Linked DNA regions of Homo sapiens: region 2 is linked to region 1. Evidence: fine-mapped expression QTL. A gene starts in region 1. The other region holds a variant in brackets. All regions are shown on one strand. Distances are from middle to middle.

Region 1 (8,347 bases):
TGATCTTCCCACCTTAGACCCCTGAGTAGCTGGGCCTACAAGTGTGTACCAACACATCCGGCTAATTTTTTTTTTTAATTTCTTTTGTAAAGACGGGGTCCCACTATGCTGCCCAGGCTGGTCTTGAACTCCTGGCTTCACGCGATCCTTCCTCCTCAGCCTCCCAAAGTGCTGGGATTACAGGCATGAGCGGCTATGACCGGGTGACAGTATATATGTTAAATATAGAGATTCTCATCTCTCTCTCTCATACATATATGTATGTATATATATGTATTCTGGAAAATTAGTTAATATCTCTGAACAATTTCTTTTTTTATTTTTAAAACAAATAAGTTGAATTAGATTATTTCTAATAACTCTTTCTAAAATAAAGCTATGATTTGTAAATGTTTTTCTTTAAATCACAACTATAAGCCAGCCATGGTGGTGCATACCTACAGTCCCAGACACTCAGAAGGCTGATGGGAGGATTCCTTGAGGCCAGGAGTTCAAAGCTGTAGTGCCCTATAATAGTGCCTGTGAATAGCCACTGCACTCCGGTCTGGGCAAGATTTTTTTTAATCACAAAAATATTTTTTTAATCGTCCTTAGCTTTCTATGGCCTAAACAATGAATTATAGGCTGGATAAGGTGGCTCACTCCTGTAATCCCAGCACTTTGGGAGGCTGAGGTGGGCAGATCACTGGAGGTCAGGAGTTCAAGACCAGCCTGGCCAACATAGTGAAACCCTGTCTCTACTAAAAATACAAAAATTAGCCGGGTATGGTGGTGCATGCCAGCTGGTGCAATACCAGCTACTTGGGAGGCTGAGGTGGGGGGATCACTTGAACCCAGGAGGCAGAGGTTGCAGTGAGCTGGGATCACGCCACTGCACTCCTGCACTCCAGCCTGGGCAACAGAGCAAGACTCCATCTCTAAATAAATAAATAAATAAATAAATAAATAAATAAATAAATAAATAATTCTAAATAAAGAACTACACAATGAATTACAAATAAAATATTTACAGCTCTAATTATATCTCAGATTTAAAATCATATGGAGGCTGGGCACAGTGGCTCACACCTGTAATCCCAGCACTTTGGGCAGCCAAAGTAGGCAGGCCGCTTGAACCCTGGAGTTCAAGACCAGCCTAGGCAATATGGCAAAACACCAACTCTACCAAAAAAACAAAACAAAATAAAAACCACACACACACACACACACACACACACACACACACACACACACATAAATTAGCTGGGTGCGGTGCTAGATAGGTGCTGATCTGGGAGGATCCCATGAGCTCGGGAGGGGGAGGTTGCCATGAGCTATGATCATGCCACTGCACTCCAGCCTTAGTGACAGAACTAGACCGTCTCAAAAAAGTAAATAAATAAAAATAAAGTAAAATCAAATCATATGGATTAAAAACATCACATCTATATCCAAATTTCCTCATAAGTAAACCACAGATGACTTTTAATCCAATTAAGCAATCAAAAACTTTTAACTGAAAGCATTATGGGGCCAACTATTCTTTATGTGATATACTTGAAGAATTAATTTATCTGCTCTATCAGTGTTATATATAACAAGTGTAATTCCCCATATGTTTATATATAATACACATACACAAACCCATATAATTTTTACCTCTGCCTAGATTCAGTCAAAATGTAACAATCTCTACAAAGAGAAAAAGCCTAGCAAATTTCTATGATGACAAGGAGTTAAGTGTGGCAAGCTACTTTGCCTTTCTCCTCTCCAAAACACTAGCTATGAAGCAAATATTTAATTGTCCTAATGAACTATTTAGGTAATAAGCGCATGTAGTTACAAATTGGCTGAATGATAGGGGTTTGAATGCTGAAGTTTTGCAATTGTAGCTGTTTAATGTAAGATCAAAAAATAATGTTTTAGTCCCAAGTTAGATTTTTAAAGTACTGCATTCATCCTGATGACTAACTAATAGAAACTAGTGGAATGTTAGCAAATTGATATATAATTTTCTAGAAATTTCCATCTTCAAAAAGTTTACTTTGGAGCTCTAGACTCCTAAAAGTTATTTGTAATTCAGAGTTCTCACTCCTGTTCCAATCCCTGAAAATAAAACATAGAACAAGAAGTCATTTTTGGCCAGGTGCGGTGGCTCACGCCTGTAATCCCAGCACTTTGGGAGGCCAAGGCGGATGGATCACCGGAGGTCAGGAGCTCGAGACCAGCCTGGCCAACATGGTGAAACCCCGTCTCTAGTAAAAATACAAAAAAAAAAAAAAAATAGCCGGGTGTCGAAGCAGGCACCTGTAATCCCAGCTGCTCGGGAGGCTGAGGCATGAGTATCACTTGAAGCCGGGGGGCGGAGGTTGCATTGAGCGGAGATCCAGCCACTGCAGTCCAGCCTGGGCAGCAGAGCGAGACTCACCCTCAAACAAACAAACAAAAAGGCGTTTTTATTCAATAAACACACTTACAACTTTAGAAAACAAATTAACTGACCACTAAAATGTACTAATTGCCTTGGTATTCCTTATATATTTTTCAGAGAAAACTCAATATCCTGTCTTGAATCCGGGCATAAGGACATAAAGAACCTGAAACACAAAGATAAAGAATTCATGCCACCACCTCAGATCAGTGGCATGCAGTGTTAAAAAATCCTCAGTACAAACGATCTGAGAAATAGAATACAGTATTTAACAGTCCTTTTGATTTCAGGGTTAGAAAGTGACATATATCTACTGCTATACAAACCCTCAGTCATCCTAAAACATTTCGTTAATGTGAGACAAGCAAACCAAGCTCAAAGTCCAGAAATTGCAAAAGGGAGGCAGGTTTCAGGAGACGGGTGCAGGTTGGGGGCAGGCGCTTGGACAAAGGGAAGACACAGTGTGTTACCTTTTCTTCCCTACTCATAAGCTAGAATCTGCTCATCCTAGTTCTCTGACTGGGAACTTCAGCTTTGAAGGGAAATGGGCAGGTGTTCTCATCCCTCCATTGATACTTAGTGTCATCTAGGTTCTTAGATCTGTCCTGTAGGCAATACATTCTCGCAACTGTGCAAATAGTGATCCTGCCCCACCATTGCACTGCCTGCTCTATCCACGGCTGTTTCCATCCGCTGGGTGTCTGTCGGTACTTACTGGAAACTTTCTAGGAGGCTGCAGCTCTAGAGAAGAAAATCCTACCAACCAGGGCACGCAGTTCAGTCGACAATGCTGGGGAAGGGAGAAGAGACGCTATTGATTACTCACAGTTTGCCTCTGAGACGGGAAGCACTAGGAGGAGACACGCCAGCAGCGCCCCGCAGCGCCCACCCAGGACCCTCATTTCGAAGCGCGCGGAGGCGCCGGCAGGGACGGTGGCGCGTCGCGGCGGGGACCGGAGCGCTAGGCGCCGCGGAGCTGCGAGCCTGTGCGCCTCGGTCTGAGCCGTGCTGCGCGGCGGCGCCAGCGACCCAGCGAGCCTCGGCGGAACAGCCGGGGGCGGAGGAGACCGCCCGCTCCCAGCGCCCAGCCCGAGAGGGGAAGTGATAACAAGGACATTTCCAGGAAGCTTTTCGGAGCTGGGGGATGGGCTCTAGTGTTGGAGGCCTAGTAAACACTGCTGAGACATCCTTCTTCACCAGCTCCCTAGTTGCTGCTTTTCCTCCACAGTGTGACGTTTCCAAAGGGGAAGGGGTGGGGAACGCAGTTCTCTGACTGGTCAAGACAACTTCCAGGGTTCAAGAGGACAGGATCCCTAGGTTCAGAAGCAGAAACAGTGAGACACTGAGTTGTCCCTGAAGATATTAACCAAAACCTGGAAGTCAATGAGGACTTTAGGAAGAACTATGGTGATAGTAAAAGCAAATGGGGTCATTTTGATCATCCACATGTTTTTTCGGTCTTGTATGCCATACAGGCATAAAAATAATGTAAAGAACATGAAGAAAAGAAGGGAATATTAGAATAATCTACCTTAAAAAAAATCTTGCTCCGATAAAGACTTCAGTTGAAAGTGAATATCTATCTATACATCTACCTATTTATTAATTTAAAAAAATTTTTTTTTTTTTTGAGACAGAGTCTCACTCTGTCGCCCAGGCTGGAGAACAGTGGCGCAATTTCGGCTCACTGCAACCTCCACCTCCCGGGTTCAAGTGATTCTCCTGTCTCAGCCTCCTGAGTAGGTGGGATTACAGGCGCCTGACACCATGCCTGGCTAGTTTTTTTGTATTTTTAGTAGAGACAGGGTTTCACCATGTTGGCCAGGCTGGTTCTGAACTCCTGATCGTGAGTGATCTGCCTGCCTCGGTCTCCCAAAGTGCTGGGATTACAGGTGTGAGCCACCACACCTAGCCTTATTTATTTATTTATTTATTTATCCGAGACAGGGTCTCACTAGGTTGCCCAGACTGGAGTGCAGTGGTGCAATCATAGCTCACTGCAGCCTCGAACTTCTGAGCTCAAGCAATCCTCCTGCCTCAGTCTCCTGAGTACCTAGGACTACAGTCACACACCACTATGCCAGGCTAATTTTTTAATTTGTTTTTTTTTTTTTTTTTTTTTTTTGGTAGAGATGGTATCGCTGTGTTGCCCAGACTGGTCTGGAACTCCTGACCTCAAGTGATCCTCTTGCCTTGGCCTCCCAAAGCTTTGGGATTACAGGTGTGAGCCACTTCTCCTGGCCTGAATATCTTTTTAATACCACAAATTTGCATCACATTGCCAGTAATAATTGTCAACACTGAAAATTTATGTGTCCTACACTGTAACGTCAAACTTTGTAAAACCATCTGGAATCTATTAATATACAATTTGACAATACATCTTTCAATAAAATTCTGGGTTTTTAATTAATCTCAGAAGTTAACTTTGTGAAAGTGATATCTGGCTTTAGCTCAATATGAATTGACACTTGGTAATCTCATTTAGCCAAAGTTTGGTTTTGATACAGACCTTAATATACAATTAAAACCTGTCCAAAATTTAACTCTTAATCTAGTCTCATTCATAATCTTAATCCCATCATTTTTCCAGTGTTACACTTCTCCATATCATCTTCTACCAACATAGTGTCTACTTATCCACTTCTTCATCTGTCTTCACCAGTAAAATGTAAGATTCATGAGAGCAGGAATTTTTAAAGGTTTTGTTCACAACTATATTACTAGTGCTTAAAACAGTGACTGGTACATAAACGTTTCATTCTATTTAAGTCAACAGTGTGTGCCTGGGAATATTTATGCCAAAATATCAACAATTATCCTGAAATGACAGTGTTAACTAGAATCATAGCAGCATGACTCTTTTCATCATTCAGAATAAACCAGATTACACACTAAAAAGCCAGAAAATTACAGTGTTTTAGATAAGAAGTGTTTATTTCTTGCTCATTGGAAGTCTACTACAAGTCTGCATGACTTTCCAAGTAACTATCTTCCATGTGTGAACTCAGCAATTCATGCTGCTTTGATTTTACAATCCCTCAAAGTCAACATAGTCTTCTACAATTACCATTGCAAGAGAAGAGAGAACATTGAGAATTGTGCCCCAGCTCTTAAATACTTTTACCAAGAAGTGACATACCACTTACATTTCATTAGACAAAGCAAGGCACGAGGTATGCCTGACTTGAAGAGGGTGGGAATAACTGTTATTTCATGTGCCTGTAAGGAAAGAGAACTAGACATGGTGAGCAGCACTTATGGCTACCAAACCACTTAAGATATTCAAAAACTAAGAGTCAGCTTTGCTAAGGGACTGCATGTTGGCACCAGGAATGCTCGGTAATGTTATCACTAGCAGAAATGGGGAAGGCATGAAGTAGAGCAGATGCTTTAATAGTATTGTTTCATTATGACATGGCTGAGAAAAATAAAATCAACTACTGGCCCAGGCCACTGTGTGTATGGAGTTTGCATGTTCTCCCCACGTCTGCATGGGTTTTCTCCAGGTACTCCATTTTCCTCCCACATCTGAAAGATGTGGATGTTAGGTGAATTGGTGTGTTTAAACTGTCCCAGTCTAAGTGAGTGTGGGCATGTATGAGAGCACCCTGTGATGGAATGGTGTCCTGTCAAGGGCTAGTTCTCACCTTTTACCCTGAGATGCCACCTATGATCCTGAACTGGAATAAGTGGACAAATAATTATCTTACTTGTTGTTATTCATCTTTCTTAATGTATAGCTCACATTTATTTCAATGTTTACTATTACTAGTGGTTCCATCTTTATTTTGAAGTTTGGTGATGTTTTTGTGACCAGAAATGTGCCACAGGAACTTAATTGATTTATATCAATTTGTCTGTGGTAAAATTGGTTTTATTGTATGTTATTTTGTTTAAAATTATAGTTTCTAAGAACCTCTGGATGAAGATAAATGAGGATTTACTGCAAAACTGGTGTTGAGTATATATTTGTGAAAAAACAGTCTTGAATATAGTTCTAAAAATGCTCAAGAAACATACACATCATGAGATCCTTCAGTCACAGAAATAATAATCAAATTCCATCAAGACAACATGTTTTAAAAAAGAAAAGCAGAGGGGTAAGGTCATATCTTAGAAGTTACATATAGAAATCCAGAGGAGGAATGGCCTGGGAGATCAGAAGAGAACCAGGGGTTGTGCTCACTTCATCAGCACATATACAACAATTGGAATGATACAGAGAAGATTAGCATGGCCCCTGAACAAGGATGACATGCAAATTCATGAAGCGGTCCATAATAAGTTAAAAAAACAAAGAAGAAGAGAACCAGGGTAGGGTAGTGCAGTGCATAACTGTGAAAGACCAAGGCAGGAAACAGTTTTAGAAAAGTTAACTATATTATATATATATTAAATAATAGAAAAGAAAACCGATTTGGTAATTAGGAAGATATAAGTTATATCAAAAAATATGCTTTCAGTAGTTAGATGGGACAGAAGCCCAATCATAGTAAATGGATCAAAGAGTGAATACAAACAATATAACTTTAGGGTTTGCAAGACACTAGTTTAAGAAAGTGAGTCATGAAAGTAGAGTCAGCAGAAACAGTCCTAAATTGGCTTGGAGTTAATGGAGCATTGCAGTCTTATCCTGCCCTGCTCTCCTGTCTCCCACCATGGATATTTGGAGGTAGGAGGACACATACCATAAGTGTTTATGGGACAGGTGACACCAACTTTAAAATTTGCTATCTATTATTTATCAGAAATTACACTTGAGCTTCATTTCTCTCATTTCATCACCTTAGCAACCTGGAAAAGTAGGTATTTTAATTTCCATGTTATAGATAGGGTTGTTGGAGCTTAGAAGAAAATATCCCAGAATAAAGGCCTCAGAAGCAAAGTTTCTGTCTCTAACCTTCTGTTCCTCGTCTCTTGCCCCTCATTCTCCCACTATGCAAGCCATAGAAACTATAATTCCTCTTTCTCCAGGTGCAGTTATAGAAACCACAACCCCCTTTCCCCAAAGCCAGCCACAAACCCCAAAATATTACTCTAACCTTCTTCCTTTCCATGAAAGACCTGCCCATAAATAAATTCTTTGACTTGCATTGTTTGATAGTACGTCTTAAGACTCCCATTCTAGAAAGGGTCCTACCCCATACCCTGGAAGAAGGAATGCTGAACAATCAGGTCAAGAGGAATCTGAACAGACAGGCCTTGCTGAGTTTCTCCACACAGTCTGCTCTCATTAGGTCATATCCTTTTTGACCAATGAGAGTTCTTCAGGGTTTTTCATTCTTCATCGAACCCAAGTATAAAAATGGGTAGTCTTCCCTGCATCTTTGCATCTCCATTTGCAAGGTTCCCATGTCACATAAAACTTGGATTAAATAAATTTGTTATGCTTTTCTCTTGCTATTCTTTTTGTTATATGAGTGTTGGCTGTGACTGTTATGATGAGAAGAAAAGGTATCACCCCCTTTGTTCCCCATAAGGCACAGTATTTTGGAGATAGCAAGCTGTATGAGATGTATATAAATTTGAATTAAAATTACATGAGGCTGGGTGCCATGGCTCATGTCTATAATCCCAGCACTTTTGGGAGGCCGAGGCAGGCGGATCATTTGAGGCCAGGAGTTTGAGACCAGCCTGGGCAACATGATGAAACCCTGTCTCTACAAAAAATACAAAAATCAGCTGGGCGTGATGGTGCACGTCTCTAGTCCCAGCTACTTGGGAGACTGAGGAAGGAGGATCACTTGACCCCAGGAAGCGGAGGTTGCAGTGAATCGAGATCATGCCACTGTACTCCAACCTGGGTGATAGAGGGAGACTCTGTCTCAAACAAAACAAAACAAAACCAAAAAAAGTTACATGATTTAGTAAAGGACAGAGACTAATTTAAAACCTATATGTATCTTAGTCTCAAATCATTATATTCCCCGCGAA
Region 2 (8,347 bases), 130 kb before region 1:
AAAAAGAAATAAGGTGCCATGAAAAATGTACAAATAATAAGAATAAATATTTTCTGTCCCTACATGTCATGAGTACAGTATAGATTACAAGATTTAACTCTTTTATAACTAATCAAATACATCTTATTTACTTTCTGTTGCCTCATTTCTCTTTTAAAATATGCATACTCCTATCTATTGATTTTATTTCACTTTGGTTGATAGGAGTATAACCACTGACCTGAAAACTGTCCCCTTCTAAAAGATAACTCCCATGATTTTCCACTTGTCTTGAAATTTTAATATCTAGGTTACATTTTTCATCATTAAAATAGTTATTTAGTTTATTAGTAACCTCTGAAGGATGTCTTGAGCATTAATAATGAGTGGAAAAACACTATAGAAATTATTATTTTTGCAAGAGCTGTATAAGTTAGTGAGGGGTTAATGCTACTTTATGCCTACTGATTATAATATATAATTATATATAGCCTGGCTATATATATTATATAGCTACTTTATGCCTACTGATTATAATATATAATTATATATAGCCTGGCTATATATAATATATATATATATTATAATATATAATTATATATAGCCTGGCCATTCTTTCAATTAAAATAAAGCCAAAGCAATGTCTTTAACATATACCTGCTTTCACTGAATAGTAACAATTCTATCAGTCTGTGGTGAAAGGGAAAATCTCAATATTAAGGACATAAATTGACAATATTTTCAATACGAAAGATGTTCCATGGAATAGGGACGCATTCGTGGGGTTTATTTATTTATTTATTTATTTATTTATTTTTCGAGACGGAGTCCTGCTCTGTCACCCAGGCTGGAGTGCAGTGGCAGGATCTAGGCTCACGGAAACCTCCTCCTCCTGAGTTCAAGCAATTCTCCTGCCGCAGGCTCCCAAGTAGCTCGGATTACAAGCACCCGCCACCATACTCGGCGCTAATTTTTGTATTTTTAGTAGAGACGGGGGTTTCACCATGTTGGCCAGGATGATTTCGAACTCCCGGCCTCGTGATCCGCCCGCTTCGGCCTCCCAAATTGCTGGGATTACAGGCATGAGCCACCGGGACCGGCCACATTCGTGTTTTAAGAGGATACTTTCGGTCATTGCGCAGTCTGAAGAGTCATTTTACTTTGCTTTCATTTATAAGACATTCATGTACTGCCATCGTGTGGTCAATCCAGCACACATCAGCTTATTTGAAATGGTATGAAAAGTCAAGGAAAAAAAAAAAGACTGTGCTATTTGTTTTGGTTCATGCTGATAGCCTTCATCTTGCCAAAAAGAGCTTAGCAAAAGAGTTAGCTGGAATATACCATAGATGTAAACCCAAGCACTTTTATTTACCAGAGGACCCAGGCAGTGTGTGTTTGAAGTCAGAACCAAGTCAATCTAGCTGATAAAACCACAGGGAGCAAATAATATTTATTTCCTGTTTAATATTCTGGATATTTCATATAGAAGATCTATCAAAAGTTCGAAGTTGTGTTATTTATATAACTTTTTCCAAAATCACAAGTTACAGTTAAAATGATATTTTATAACTGTAGTGCCTTTTTAATGCAACTAAAAAAAGCTGTGTGCATAAATGGACAAATATAAGTGCAGATACAGGGGAAGTCAAAGCAATTTAAATTGGAAACGTTAAACACACAGCACAAGATCATACTTTTCTCGTTTAGATAATTTCATCTGTCTTCAAGAGTACAAAATCAAATGAGGTCCAACTCCCTTCTACTTAATTTTTAGTATCATCTCTAATACTGAGGGTGGGTGTAATCATTCAAATCGTAATCATGATGAAATTATTTAATGGATTCATATCTTATAAATTAAAATCTTTCTTCCAGTCAGAACATGAAAATCAAAAGCTCTATTTGATAAAAGAGTAATTCTGGATTTAAATACAAAAGTTCTTATATTGTAAAGCCCTTAAATTGTTTTCCAGAAATAAAACCTTTTCAACATTTAAATATAGCAAGAACTACAGGGAAGCATAATTCTATTAATGACTTCTTTCACCTTAGAAAGTATCAGATGAGCTAATGAATTTTCTACCTTCAACTGATAGTTTTAGAGAGAGAAATATCATTTCAACTCTCATATCTTTATGTATTGTTTCAAGAAATGCCAAATGCCTTTCAAAATATTATCTCAGCATGTAAGATTTAAATACACCAACAAATTTTATGAGACAAAATCCTAATTTACTTTCCTTCTTTCCCTTTTTTATTGAACACTCACCACAAATTTCTTATTAGATGAAACATAAAAAGTTATCAACAAATATAAAATCAGCCTAAACGTAACTATCAGTCTAAATTTTGGTCTTAAATTATCACTAATTTTATAACTTTCTTCCATTTAATACAGTGACTTCCTGCATGTTCATGAGTTTATAATGGTCATATAAAATAACTTTTCTCTCATGACCTTTAGTAGGAAAGAAAGATATTTGTATATGAGAGAAAAAGAACTAATAAGTAAATATTTTAATGAAGAAAGAAAAAATGTATTGAGTAGAAATGAAGATTATCCAATCTAAAGATTAGATATGCACTTTTTTTGGTTATGAGTTTCTATTATGGAAAACAAAACAAACTCAGTAAATAGACATATTAAAACAGGTAGAAGCCTAGCCAAATTTTGACACTCTTAAAAGACTTAATAATGAAAAGAGATAGGTCCACGATTAAGACCAGTCTACACATTATTTAATTGCCTGCCAATCCGGGAAAAATTGAATTTAGTCACCATTATTACATGTGGTTCAACACGAGTGTCTTGGAAGTTGCTTATGATAGGGCTACAAATGAAAGTGTCCTAAATTTTTAACCCTCATGAAGATATGATGGACAACCAGAAGATCTAGCTACAGGCAACATCAAGGAAGGAGCACTGGTCAGCTTCATAAATACAAGTCTGTTTTCTAGGGAGAAGGAAGAATGGAAGCAATCTTAGTCAATATTCTTTTGACTGCAAGTACAGAAACTCATTTGAGATAGTTTACACAAAAAAAGGGTATGCATTCTGTAGATATAAGTGTATAGTGCTACTCAAAGAATGATTTAGTGTTTGCCTTGGCAGTGCATATACTAAAATTAGAATGATACAGAGATTAGTGTGGCCCCTGTGCAAGGATGACACGTTCTAAAAATTTATTAATATTTAAAAAAAGATCTAAAAATCATGATGGAATTTGGTATAGAATTTGAGATGAAGCATTTAGAAAGTTGTGAGCAATTTGAGAAAGCAGTTTTTTGCCTGCTGATTCTTTAATAAAAAGGCATGGTCGCTGTGTGATTCCCATGGCGACTGTAACACATTACCACAAACTTCGCGGCATAAAAAAAATTTATTCTGCCACAGTTCTGGATGCCACTCCAGCCATCCTCTTTGAAGAAGGGCCTTGAGCTAGTGAAGCATCTCTGCCAGCATAAGCAGAGAACA[G/A]GAAATGCTTGGAATTTGCAACTACCATGCCTCCCAAGATGGTCACAAGCTAATGACTCATTGGTGTGGGAGTATGAAAGCCCAGTTCCCTTGCCTTTGTCAGGACAAACAGTGCCTTGTAACTTACATTCCAAAATTCCCTGCTGAATCAGACTGGCATCACCCCTACTTGAAGTGGTACCCTGGCTTCTTAGCTTCCCTCCCCTCCTTCCCTCATTCCCTTGGCAATTTAACCCGGAACACTTCTTTAATAAATTACTTGCATATGAATCCCTAGCCTAATATCTCCTTATTTTGAAGAAACTGATCTAACACAAAGAGTAACTTTCTTTTTTTCTTTTTTTTTTTTTTTGAGACGGAGTTTCGCTCTGTCACCCAGGCTGGAGTGCAGTGGAGTGATCTCGGCTCACTGCAAGCTCTGCCTGCTGGGTTCACGCCATTCTCCTGCCTCAGCCTCCCGAGTAGCTGGGACCACAGGGCCCGCCACCACGCCCGGCTAATTTTTTTTTATTTTTAGTAGAGACGGGGTTTCACCGTGTTAGCCAGGATGATCTCTATCTCCTGACCTCGTGATCGGCCCGCCTTGGCCTCCCAAAGTGCTGGGATTACAGGCGTGAGCCACCACACCCGGCCAAGAGTATCTTTCAGATGCCTTGTTTAGCGTTTCCTTAGATTGGGGAACCCAACCTAAGACAAAGATTATGTCATACAAACAAAGAGCAATATGAGCAGCCAATCCCCCTTGAAGAACTGAAACCAAATCATCTCTCTGTCTCTCCAGGCCACTGGAGCCTCATGGCTGCTCTGTTTCTTCCTTCACGTCTGTTTTATTTTTGTCTCTGCACACACATCTCTGCTTTATGGCACTTAACCAGAGCTCTCAATCTAACTCTTCTGTTTCAATTCATGATTTCCTTTCATTTAATATAGTAACTTTTCAAAACCTTTTTAAGAATTTGAAAATAAAGTTTTATGTAAAAGAAATGTATTTCAATAAACTTTAATAGAAAAGAAAGATTACTACATAACTCTAAAGATTACAAAACTCTTTATAGTGATAAGCCAGATTATTTCTAGTCCCATTTGTGTGGAATAAAAGTAAATATGGTTGACTCATTTTATTGATAGAAAGTGTAATGATACTGATAAAAATTAGTAGAATTATACAGTATACAAATGACTGCCAAGTCCTACCACTTTCGGAAGTTTCCTTCTCCTTTAAAAGAAAAGGTGCATGGTTTGGCTCAAGGTATGGCACTCGGTATTGTACATAGCCACCCAAGTTCAGGCTACAGGGAGTATCTGCAAAGAGAGCCTTATTATTTGACCTTGGAGAAAAAAGTGAGAAAAACCCTATCTGACACAGAGGCATTTCCTGAGCCAAGAGTGTATTTGTCTTTGAGAATAGAAAGAGTTTAAACTGAATGTGACATTTTAAAAAATAATTAACAATTACACCATTTATTGAGGAGTACAATGTTAACTTGGCCATTGGGAGTTTTACTGGTTAAAATAATTTAAGAGAGTGTTTTTACTATTATGATTAAATATAATATTATTACTATTTAAAAGGTAACTTTTTTACCTAATACCTATTATATATCAAGCCCTGTATTTAAATCTCTACATGCCATAGCTCATTTACATGTCACATTGATACTTTGATGTGGATATTATTCCTATTTTAAATATTCCAAAGCTGAAACTTAAAGAATAATAGCTCACTCACAGCTAATCATCTGGAAGGGAAAACTAGATCTTTGTCACCAGAGCCCAGGTCATTTCCACACTGCTATACCATCTTAAGCTGTCATCTGTGTTAGCTCTTTCTCTCAGTGTGTCAATGAACAACTCTGTTTCTAAGCCAGTGCTTGGTCTACTGCGTCAGCTGCTTCAGCTTTACTTCTTTCTCTCTGAGAAGTTCCTTCCCATCAAGCCCATGGTGCTAATGAAAGGGATTCATGAAGAGTGAAGGACATATCACATGTGCACATTGTCCCATGTCATGCCCTGTCTAGTTTCTCAGAATGTGCAGAAATGTTCTCTGCAGGAAGTTATGAGCCTTCACCTGGATCCATGTGATAAATTTCAAACAAGCTTAAGCGTTCTTGTCTCTACAATGAATTAAATGCAATTAGGCAACACACAGCAGAATATACCAAATGACCTGTCACTCCATTGTAATTATTTTATTTAAAAATAATCCTACCTGGTTATAACTTAAGCCACACATATAAAGTGGAGAAGAGTTCTTGATTGTCCTTGACAAAAAACAGAAATTAAAATGACTCTGTCTCATTGAAGCTTTGAATCAGAGATTACTACTTAAGAATAAACAGTAGAAAAATTACTACCTTATGGAAAATCACAAAAAATACACATTTTAAACTGTTCAGATGAATTAAGACATCATATAGATTAGTGAAAATAATATAAAATTTAATTATGATCCATATCACAAAGTTATTATTTCTACTTTAATTGGTGAATTTGGACCATATACACAAATTCCCAAACACCATGCATCTGTCACTGACTATACGTTCATGATTGTGTTCCCTAATTAAAATCTATTTCAGTTCAGTATGCTGGAATTCGATGTTTTTGTTCTTTTTATTGTTATTATTATTATTATATTTTAAGTTCCAGGGTACATGTGCACAACGTGCAGGTTTGTTACATAGGTATACATGTGCCATGTTGGTTTGCTGTGCTCATTAACTCATCATTTGCATTAGGTATTTCTCCCAATACTATCCCTCCCCCAGCTCCCAACCCCACGACAGTCCCCCGTGTGTGATGTTCCCCACACTGTCCAAGTGTTCTCATTGTTCAGTTCCCACCTATGAGTGAGAACATGTGGTGTTTGCTTTTCTGTCCTTGTGATAGTTTGCTGAGAATGATGGTTTCCAGCTTCATCCATACCCCTACAAAGGACATGAATTCATCATTTTTTATGGCTTCATAGTATTCTATGGTGTATATATGCCACATTTTCTTAATCTAGTCTATCACTGATGGACATTTGGGTTGGTTCCAAGTCTTTGCTATTGTGAATAGGGCCACAATAAACATACGTGTGCATGTGTCTTTATAGCAGCATGATTTATAATCTTTGGGTATATACCCAGTAATGGGATCACTGAGTCAAACGGTATTTCTGGTTCTAGATCCTAGAGGAATCGCCACACTGTCTTCCACAATGGTTGAACTAATTTACACTCCCACCAACAGTGTAAAAGTGTTCCTATTACTCCACATTCTCTCCAGCATCTGTTGTTTCCTGACTTTTTAATGATCGCCATTTTAACTGATGTGAGATGGTATCTCACTGTGGTTTTGATTTGCATTTCTCTGATGGCCAGTGATGATGAGCATTTGATCATGTGTCTGTTGGCTGCATAAATGTCTTTTTTTTGAGAAGTGTCTGTTCATATCCTTTGCCCACTTTTTGATGGGGTTGTTTGTTTTTTTCTTGTAAATTTGTTGAAGTTCTTTGTAGATTCTGGATATTAGCCCTTTGTCAGATGGGTAGATTGCAAAAATTTTCTCCCATTCTGTAGGTTACCTGTTCACTCTGATGGGAGTTTCATTTGCTGTGCAGAAGCTCTTTAGTTTAATTAGATCCCATTTGTCAATTTTGGCTTTTGTTGTCATTGCTTTTGGTGTTTTAGACATGAAGTCCTTGCCCATGCCTATGTCCTGAATGGTATTGCCTAGGTTTTCTTCTACAGTGTTTAGGGTTTTAGGTCTAACATTTAAGTCTTTAATCAATCTTGAACTAATTTTTGTATAAGGTGTAAGGAAGGGATCTGGTTTCAGCTTTCTACATATGGCTAGCCAGTTTTCCCAGCACCATTTATTGAATAGGGACTCCTTTGCCCATTTCTTGTTTTCATCAGGTTTGTCAAAGATCAGATGGTTGTAGCTGTGTGGTGTTATTTCTGAGGCCTCGGTTCTGTTCCATTGATCTATATCTCTGTTTTGGTACCAGGACCATGCTGTTTTGGTTACTGTAGCCTTGTAGTATAGTTTGAAGTCAGGTAGTGTGATGCTTCCAGCTTTGTTCTTTTTGCTTCGGATTGTCTTGGCAATGTGGTTCCTTTTTGGTTTGATATGAACTTTAAAGTAGTTTTTTCTAATTCTGTGAAGAAAGTCATTGGTACCTTGATGGGGATGGCATTGAATCTATAAATTACCTTGGGCAGTATGGCCATTTTCACGACATTGATTCTTCCTATCCATGAACATGGAATGTTCTTCCATTTGTTTGTGTCCTCTTTTATTTCAATGAGCGGAGGTTTGTAGTTCTCCTTGAGGAGGTCCTTCACATACCTTGTAAGTTGGATTCCTAGGTATTTTATTCTCTTTGAAGCAATTGTGAATGGGAGTTCACTCATGATTTGGCTCTCTGTTTGTCTGTTATTGGTGTATAAGAATGCTTGTGATTTTTGCACATTGATTTTGTATCCTGAGACTTTGCTGAAGTTGCTTATCAGCTTAAAGAGATTTTGGGCTGAGACAATGGGGTTTTCTAAATATACAATCATGTCGTCTGCAAACAGGGACAATTTGACTTCCTCTTTTCCTAATTGAATATCCTTTATTTATTTATCTTGCCTGATTGCCCTGGCGAGAACTTCCAACAATATGTTGAATAGAAGAGGTGGCAGAAGGCATCCTTGTCTTGTGCTGGTTTTCAAAGGGAATGCTTCCAGTTTTTGCCCATTCAGTATGATATTGGCTGTGGGTTTGTCATAATTGGCTGCTATTATTTTGAGATACATTCCATCGATACCTGGTTTATTGAGAGTTTTTAGCATGAAGGGCTGCTGAATTTTGCTGAAGGCCTTTTCTGCATCTATTGAGATAAACATGTTGTTTTTGTCA

The links.
Region 2: its variant is fine-mapped to the expression of PROS1 in fibroblasts (GTEx, PIP above 0.99).

The regions. Positions count from the first base shown.
Region 1 is chr3:93,970,438-93,978,784 of GRCh38, forward strand. PROS1 (protein S) reads right to left here and starts at 3,459. Exons shown (of 15, transcript NM_000313.4): 1 at 3,237-3,459. The coding sequence starts at 3,312. It also overlaps the pseudogene RNU6-511P. RefSeq lists a silencer at 1,108-1,402.
Region 2 is chr3:93,840,686-93,849,032 of GRCh38, forward strand. It overlaps the pseudogene RNU6-488P. Among named protein-coding and RNA genes, the nearest start is that of PROS1, 130 kb to the right of the region's middle. The variant G/A (reference allele first, on the strand shown) is at 3,458.